Homo sapiens: one gene and its partner. The protein of the gene in region 1 purifies or fractionates together with the protein of each later gene. This does not show direct contact. Each region holds a gene or a part of one and is shown in the gene's direction. Other genes may lie near its edges. The genes, in order: ARHGAP4 and WDR33.

Region 1 (3,812 bases):
AGCCCCGCCCCAGCTCCCAGTATAACCAGAGACTCTTTGGGGGAGACATGGAGAAGTTTATCCAGGTACTAGCTTTGCCCCACATGCCAGCCCACCTGTACATGCTGATCTTTCTTCAGCTCTGGGTCACCTCAGTGGCCGGAGCAGCTGCCTGATCCCAGGGTCCTCCACTCTCAATCAGTCATCAACTGTCCTTTTCTGGGTGGGCCTCTTCCAGGCCACTGTTGGGCTCCCCTATAGCCTCCGCTGATTGAAGGGAGCATCCTTAACTAGTAATGGGAACGTATAGAAAACCTGGGGCAGCGGCATTTTTAGGGGCGAGATATTGAGAGCTTCTCCCCTGCGACTTCTGGCCAGCATGGTACTGGGGGTCCTGGACAGTGAAATAAGGGGAAGCAAGAAAGATCAGAAAACTAATACTGAGATCAGAAAGCATCAGAGGGGGCCAGGCACGGTGGCTCACACCTGTAATCCCAGCTCTTTGGGAGGCTGAGGTGGGCAGATCCCTTCAGCCCAGGTGTTCGAGACCAGCCTGGGCAACATGGTGAAACCCCGTCTCTACTAAAAATACAAAAATTAGCCAGGCATGGTGGCACGTGCCTGTAATCCCAGTGAAAGAAAGAAAGAGAGAGAGAGAGAGGGAAGGAAAGAAGGAAGGAAGGAAAAGAGAGAGAAAGAAAAGAAAAGAAGCAAGCAAGCATCAGAGAGGGCCAGGCATGGAGAATACCAGAAGATCAGAACTGATATCGTCATTTTCAGTGATGTGGTTATGCGTGTAGCATATTCAAAAGAATCAACAGATTCTTTAAACGAGCACTTTGAGTTTCTTTCTTTTTTTTTTTTTTTTTATTTGTTGAGACTGGTTCTTGCACTGTTGCCCAGGCTGGAGTGCAGTGGCACGATCTCAGCTCCCTGCAACCTTCACCTCCCACCTGCTGGGGTTCAAGCGATTCTCATGCCTCAGCCTCCCAAGTAGCTGTGTGCACCATCACACCTGGCTAATTTTTATATTTTTAGTAGAGGTGAGGTTTCACCGTGTTGGTCAGGTTGGTCTCGAACTTCTGACCTCAGGTGATCCTCCTCCCTTGGCCTCCCAAAGTGCTGGGATTACAGGCATGAGCCACCACACCCAGCTTGAGTTTTGAAATGTTACTTGATTCAAGATTGGTGTACAGAATTCAATTGCATTTGTATATTCCAGCAACAATTTGCAAATACAACGTAAGGCACTGCCTAAAACCTCATCAAAAATATCAGACACCTACGAGTGGATCTAACAAACGGTGTGCTAAGCCTCTGTGCCGACAACGATGATGTGTTCTTCAGAGAAAATAAAAGCACTCAGCCTGGTGCGGTGGCTCATGCCTGTAATCCCACCATTGGGGAGCTTGAGGCAGGAGTATCACTTGAGCCCAGGAAGCTGAGGCTACAGTGAGCCGAGATCACGCCAGTGCACTTCAGCCTGGGTGACAGAGTGAGACCTTGTCTCAAAAAAAAAAAAAAAAAAAAAAAGCAATTGAATGACAACACAGGGCATGCTGTGTCCATGGTGAAGTAAACACCCTCTGTCCCCAGAGCTCAGGCCAGCCTGTGCCCCTGGTGGTGGAGAGCTGCATTCGCTTCATCAACCTCAATGGTAAGCAGGACCCAGCCCCTCCCGATGTCCTGGCACCCAGCACCCAGTTCCCAGCACCTGGCATGGGAGGCCATCCTGGAGGGGCTGGGGAAGATGCTCAGTGCCCACCAGCTCCTTGTCCTCCCACAGGCCTGCAGCATGAAGGCATCTTCCGGGTATCGGGTGCCCAGCTCCGGGTCTCAGAGATCCGTGATGCCTTCGAGAGAGGTGGGGACGGGCAGGGCGGGCGGGGGTGGGGGCTCGGGCAGATGTCACCAGCTTCCTCCCCCTACCGCACCACTCGCCCATCTGCAGGGGAGGACCCACTGGTGGAGGGCTGCACTGCCCATGACCTGGACTCGGTGGCCGGGGTGCTGAAGCTCTACTTCCGGAGCCTGGAGCCCCCACTCTTCCCCCCAGACCTGTTCGGCGAGCTGCTGGCTTCTTCGGGTGAGGCTGGGGCCTGAGGCTGGCGGGGTAGGGCACTTGCTGGGGCAGCCCCGCTCACGCGGCTCTCTCTGGGCGGCTTTGGCCACAGAGCTGGAGGCCACAGCGGAGAGGGTGGAGCACGTGAGCCGCCTGCTGTGGCGGCTGCCCGCGCCGGTGCTGGTGGTTCTGCGCTACCTCTTCACCTTCCTCAACCAGTGAGTGCTGCGGGGCGAGTGCTGGGGTGGGGGCCAGGGGTCGAGGGGACAGGGGGACTCGGGGTGCGGGCTCTCTGCTTGTGATGTGCGTGTCCCCCCAGCCTGGCCCAGTACAGCGATGAGAACATGATGGACCCCTACAACCTGGCCGTGTGCTTCGGGCCCACGCTGCTACCGGTGCCCGCTGGGCAGGACCCGGTGGCGCTGCAGGGCCGGGTGAACCAGCTGGTGCAGACGCTCATAGTGCAGCCCGATCGGGTCTTCCCGCCCCTGACCTCGCTGCCTGGCCCCGTCTACGAGAAGTGCATGGCACCGCCTTCCGCCAGCTGCCTGGGGTACACCCTTGGTGCTGCCGAGGGGACTGGGGGGTCCACTGGAGAAGAGCCCCCCTCATCTGCCTCGCTCTGCCCTGAACCTCAGGGACGCCCAGCTGGAGAGCCTGGGGGCGGACAATGAGCCGGAGCTGGAAGCCGAGATGCCCGCACAGGAGGATGGTGAGGGCGATGGGCAGAGAGCCCCACCCTGTCCCCACCCTAGTGTCCACACCCCCTCCCACAGCTTGGACCCCCTCTCCTCCCCAGACCTGGAGGGGGTCGTGGAGGCTGTGGCCTGCTTTGCCTACACGGGCCGCACAGCCCAGGAGCTGAGCTTCCGGCGGGGGGACGTACTGCGGCTGCACGAGAGGGCCTCGAGCGACTGGTGGCGGGGGGAGCACAACGGCATGCGGGGCCTCATCCCCCACAAGTATATCACGCTGCCCGCCGGGTGAGTGAGCCGCGCCCTCAGGCCCCAGGGCTCCCGGAGTCTCCCCTTCATCCACCCCTCCCCCGACCCCAAGTTAGATTCTGAAGGTCTGGGCTGGGCCAGAGAACAGAGCCTCTCTGACCACTCCTGGCTGGCGCGGAGCTGCTGGCCCTGGACCCCGTGCAGGGAAGGAGCACTCGAAACAGGCCGGTCCTTCCCACCGCAGGACGGAGAAGCAGGTGGTGGGCGCAGGGCTGCAGACTGCAGGGGAGTCTGGGAGCAGTCCCGAGGGCCTCCTGGCATCGGAGCTGGTCCACCGGTGAGCAAGAAGACGGGGCTCAGGGGGCCACACGTGTGCTGTTCTAGGCCAGAGGGGACTGGGGTCAGGCTTTGGCCAGTGGGAGTGGGAGGAGTTGGCAGATGAGGACGTGACAGAATGACCCAGCTTGTGACAGGGAGAGGCTCTAGAGGAGCTTGGGGACCACTGGGCCAGCCTCCTTTCCTTGGCCACACCCCAGGATGGGAGGAGCCACTGCCCAGCTAGCTCAGGGACTTCCCAGGGCCCCCACCAGGCTCCCTGTCTGTCCTGCAGGCCAGAGCCATGCACCTCACCTGAGGCCATGGGACCCTCTGGACACAGACGACGCTGCTTGGTCCCAGCCTCCCCAGAGCAACACGTGGAGGTGGATAAGGTGAGAGTGGGTGTGTGGCAGGTGAGGGACATCTGTCCTGGGGGATCTCTGCCTCCCCTTGGAAGCCAAACTCCTCCCTCCTCGAGGTTCCAGTCGTTGCCCTCCCTGGCCTTAGCT
Region 2 (3,812 bases), on another chromosome or scaffold:
TTCCCAGAGCTAGGTAGTATTGGAAAGGGCATGTATGGGTTTCAGCAGCAAATGGACCTAGGTTTGAATGCCAGGCTCACCATTAACTACCTTTTTTATATTGGGTCAGTTAATTAAACTCTCTAAGCTTCAGTTTCTTTGTATATAAGAATGTTAACTATAAAACCTAAAGGTAAAAAGTGCCTCATATATAGTAGGCATTCTTTAAATGTTAACATTTTTTTTCTTTCTGTGATGAATTTAATTGGTGACATCATTTTCAGTTTTAAACATTAACTCAAATATCTTTGTTGAAATTTACTGACAATCTCATTCCTCTGATAAGTTAATCACTCCTTTCTCTGCTATTAAAGCATTTTGTATATATCTTTAATGTATTTTGACTATACCTTCTCCACTACTTGTGAATACTTTGGTTTTTAGTTTGTTTGTTTGTTTTCTGAGACAGGGTCTCACTTTGTCACCCAGGCTGGAATACAGTGGCATGATCATGGCTCACTGTAGCCTCTAATTCCTAGGCTCAAGCGATCCTCCCACTTCAGCCTTTCAAAGTCTTGGGAGTCATGAGTCCCTGCTGCCAGCTCTTTGTGAGCACGTTGAAGACGTGCTATAGTACCTTATATTTTTGTATTCCTAAAACCTAGGCATTATACAAATTGAAGAATGAATTTTCTACAAAAATTCCCCTCATGACTTGGTTTATTTCTGATCTTTGGCTGTTGCTTATTAACTCTTTGCCTAGATTGTATTCTCCTTCCTTTCACACTATTCCTATTCTGTTCAGTCCTTAAAATCCAGCTAAATCCAATTAATGAGGTCTTCAGTGACTCTCATTTATTCATAACTTGTTTAGTTAGTCTAGTGTCTGTGTGACTGCCTTCTGTTACTTTGTGTCCCATTAGTACCTGCCTCTATGCCTTACCATTTTGAGCAGATCCTTGAGTGGGATGATACGTGCAAAACTGTGCTTTAGGCAGTTTGTTGTTATAGGCACCTGCTCTCTACTCTGTTTGCTCTCAACTTAGTAGGTGGAGCAGCAATTTTCCTTTTTTGGTATATGGAATATTCTGGTAACTTTTTTGCAACTTTAAGAAATTTCAAGCCAGGTGCAGTGGCTCACATCTGTAATCCCAGCACTTTGGGAGGCCGAGGCAGGTGGATCACCTGAGGTCAGGAGTTCAAGACCAGCCTGGCCAACATGGTGAAACCCCATCCCTACTAAATACAAAAAAAATTAGCTGGGCGTGGTGGCACATTCCTGTAATCCCAGCTACTTGGGAAGCTGAGGCAAGAGAATTGCTTCAACCTTGGAGGCGGAGGTTGCAGTGAGCTGAGATTGCGCATTGTACTTCAGCCTGGGCAACAAGAGTGAAATGCCGTCTTAAAAAAAAAAATTTCAAACATGCAGCAAAGGTGAAAGAATACTACAGTGAACACCCATATGCCTTCTGTTTGGATTCGACTGTTAACCAACATTTAACCATTTTGCTTTAACTCTATATCCTCCCTTTCTTGAATGATTTGAAATTAAATTGCAGATATACTGCTTTTCCCTGTAATACCTCAGGATGCATGTCTTTGAAATAATGCTTTTTCCTACGCTTTTCTACATTTTTATTTCAAGCCAGTCTCCAGCTGAAAACATATAAAATCATTATCATACCTAAGGCAATTAGCATGAAATCTTTAGCATCATCTTTTTTTTTTTTTCGAATGAGTTGGTGTAGTTCTATTTTTTTTTGGCTTTGTTCCACAGTTGTTGAAGAGTTGGTTTAATTCTAGGTTACACAGAGTTTAGGGTAGAACAAAGACCAAAGAGCAGTCTCTGGCAAGATTCTGGGCTGGTTTTACTTTAAATTCATAGCTAAGGCAGGAATGGAGTGAAAACAACTAAAGAGAGGCCGGGCGCAGTGGCTCACGCCTGTAATCCCAGCACTTGGGAGGCTGAGGTGAGCAGATCACCTGAGGTCAGGAGTTTGAGACCAGCCTGGCCAACATTGTGTAACCTCGTCTCTACTAAAAATACAAAAATTAGCCGGGTGTGGTTGCGCATGCCTGTAGTCCCAGCTACTCGGGAGACTGAGGCATGAGAATCGCTTGAACCCAGGAGGTGGAGGTTGTAGTGAGCTGAAATTGTGCCACTGCACTGCAGCCAGGGCAACAGAGCGAGACTGTCTCAAAAAAAAAAAAAAAAAGAAAAAGAAAAACAACTAAAGAGATGATGAGCCACTGTAAGCATTTTAATTTATTTTATTAATATTTTTTATTTAAAATTTTAAAATTTTGTTTATTTTGAGACAGGGTCTTACTTTGTCATCCAGGTTGGAGTGCAGTGGCACAATCACAGCTCACTGCAGCCTCAACCTCCCAGCTCAAGCAATCTGCCCACCTTGGCCTCACAAAGTGCTAGGATTACAGGTGTGAGCCACCACACCTGCGGTTTTTTTTTTTTTTTTAAACAAAAGTTTATTCTTTAATGTGCAGTAGACTCCAGCTTCAAGACGACACTTCATTCCAGCTATAGGTGGCAACAGATATTATGGCAGGGAATACAGATGTTTAAATACGAATGAAATCAAGGGTCACCATTGCTTCAGGCACAGGGCACAGCTTACTTTCTGCCAGATTTTTAAATTCCACCTGTGGCCGGAGCCCCTTCCAGGAGGCTTTCGCTTTTAGCTCCTTGTGTTTCTTTCGTTCCTTTTCTTGTTTCTGCTTGAAAGCCTTATTCATCTTCTTGGCCTGCTTTTTGGGCAGTTTCAAAGGGTTCTTCTTGCCACCTTTGAGGCCGGACCTGGCACCTGCTGCCCCTTCCTGACTCTGTCACCACAAACAGCTAGCCTCATCTTTTTAAAGAACGTTCCATATTTTGGAATTTCTTATTGTATGCTTAAAATGTCATGTATTTTGTTTCTCAATTCCTGTTGTTTCTCTATTCCTTTTATTTCCTGTAAACTAGAAGTTAGATCTAGAGAGGTTTGACTAAATTTGGGTCAAATATTTTTGGCAAAAATACTTCATAGAGGCCAGGTGCGCTGGCTCATGTCTGTAATCCCAGCACTTTGAGAGGCTGAGGCAGATGGATTGCTAGAGCCCAGGAGTTCAAGACCAGCCTGGACAATTTGGCAAAACCCTGTCTCTATTTTAAAAAAAGAAAAAAAAATGCTGGGTTTGGTGGCCTGCGCCTGTAGTCCCAGCTACTTGGGAGGTTGAGACAGGAGGATGGCTTGAGCCAGAGAGGTGGAGGCTGCAGTGAGCCGACATCCTGCTGCTGTACTCCAGCCTAGGCGACAAGAGAACCCTGTCTCAAAAAAAAAAAAAAAAAAAAAAAAAAAAAGAAAAAACTTCACAGGTGATGATACGTGATTTATGTTGTGAGGATATACTTCTAGCTATGAGCCTTCAATAAGGTGGTAGGGACTGCCAGATGTTAGCTTGCGTTATTTACAATGCCAAATTTACCTGGTTAATGTGTCCATTGGATTTCTTCATCAAAGAGGTATATTTTTCCCTTTGCAGTTATACTTGATCTGTGGGGTGATAACTTTAGCATCATGTGAGTACCTCACTTCTCAAAATATTTTTCACTTAATGATTGATGATTATTAGCTGAGTCATTTATTGGGGGTTTTCTAATTTTGTTATTTGTTTATATTCATTAACTGTTTTCTGTAATAAAGAGCTTTTGCTTTCCCCCTTTCGTGTTTAAATGTTTAAATTTTGAAATAAATATGAACTAACAGAAGAGTTGGAAGAATAGTTCAAAGAACTCCTATGTACTTTTTATTCTGATTCACCCATTTTTAACATTT

Evidence for each region.
Region 2: the proteins of ARHGAP4 (region 1) and WDR33 purify together in Homo sapiens (affinity purification with mass spectrometry, with the first as the bait; one large-scale study listed by BioGRID). This does not show direct contact.

Annotation. Positions count from the first base shown.
Region 1 is NC_000023.11:153,908,953-153,912,764, reverse strand, and holds part of ARHGAP4 (rho GTPase-activating protein 4), read left to right. Parts: coding exon 1-65; intron 66-1,575; coding exon 1,576-1,636; intron 1,637-1,765; coding exon 1,766-1,843; intron 1,844-1,930; coding exon 1,931-2,065; intron 2,066-2,153; coding exon 2,154-2,259; intron 2,260-2,360; coding exon 2,361-2,594; intron 2,595-2,679; coding exon 2,680-2,753; intron 2,754-2,840; coding exon 2,841-3,024; intron 3,025-3,229; coding exon 3,230-3,322; intron 3,323-3,595; coding exon 3,596-3,695; intron 3,696-3,812. UniProt on the Homo sapiens protein: Inhibitory effect on stress fiber organization. May down-regulate Rho-like GTPase in hematopoietic cells.
Region 2 is NC_000002.12:127,804,594-127,808,405, reverse strand, and holds part of WDR33 (pre-mRNA 3' end processing protein WDR33), read left to right. Parts: intron 1-3,812. UniProt on the Homo sapiens protein: Essential for both cleavage and polyadenylation of pre-mRNA 3' ends.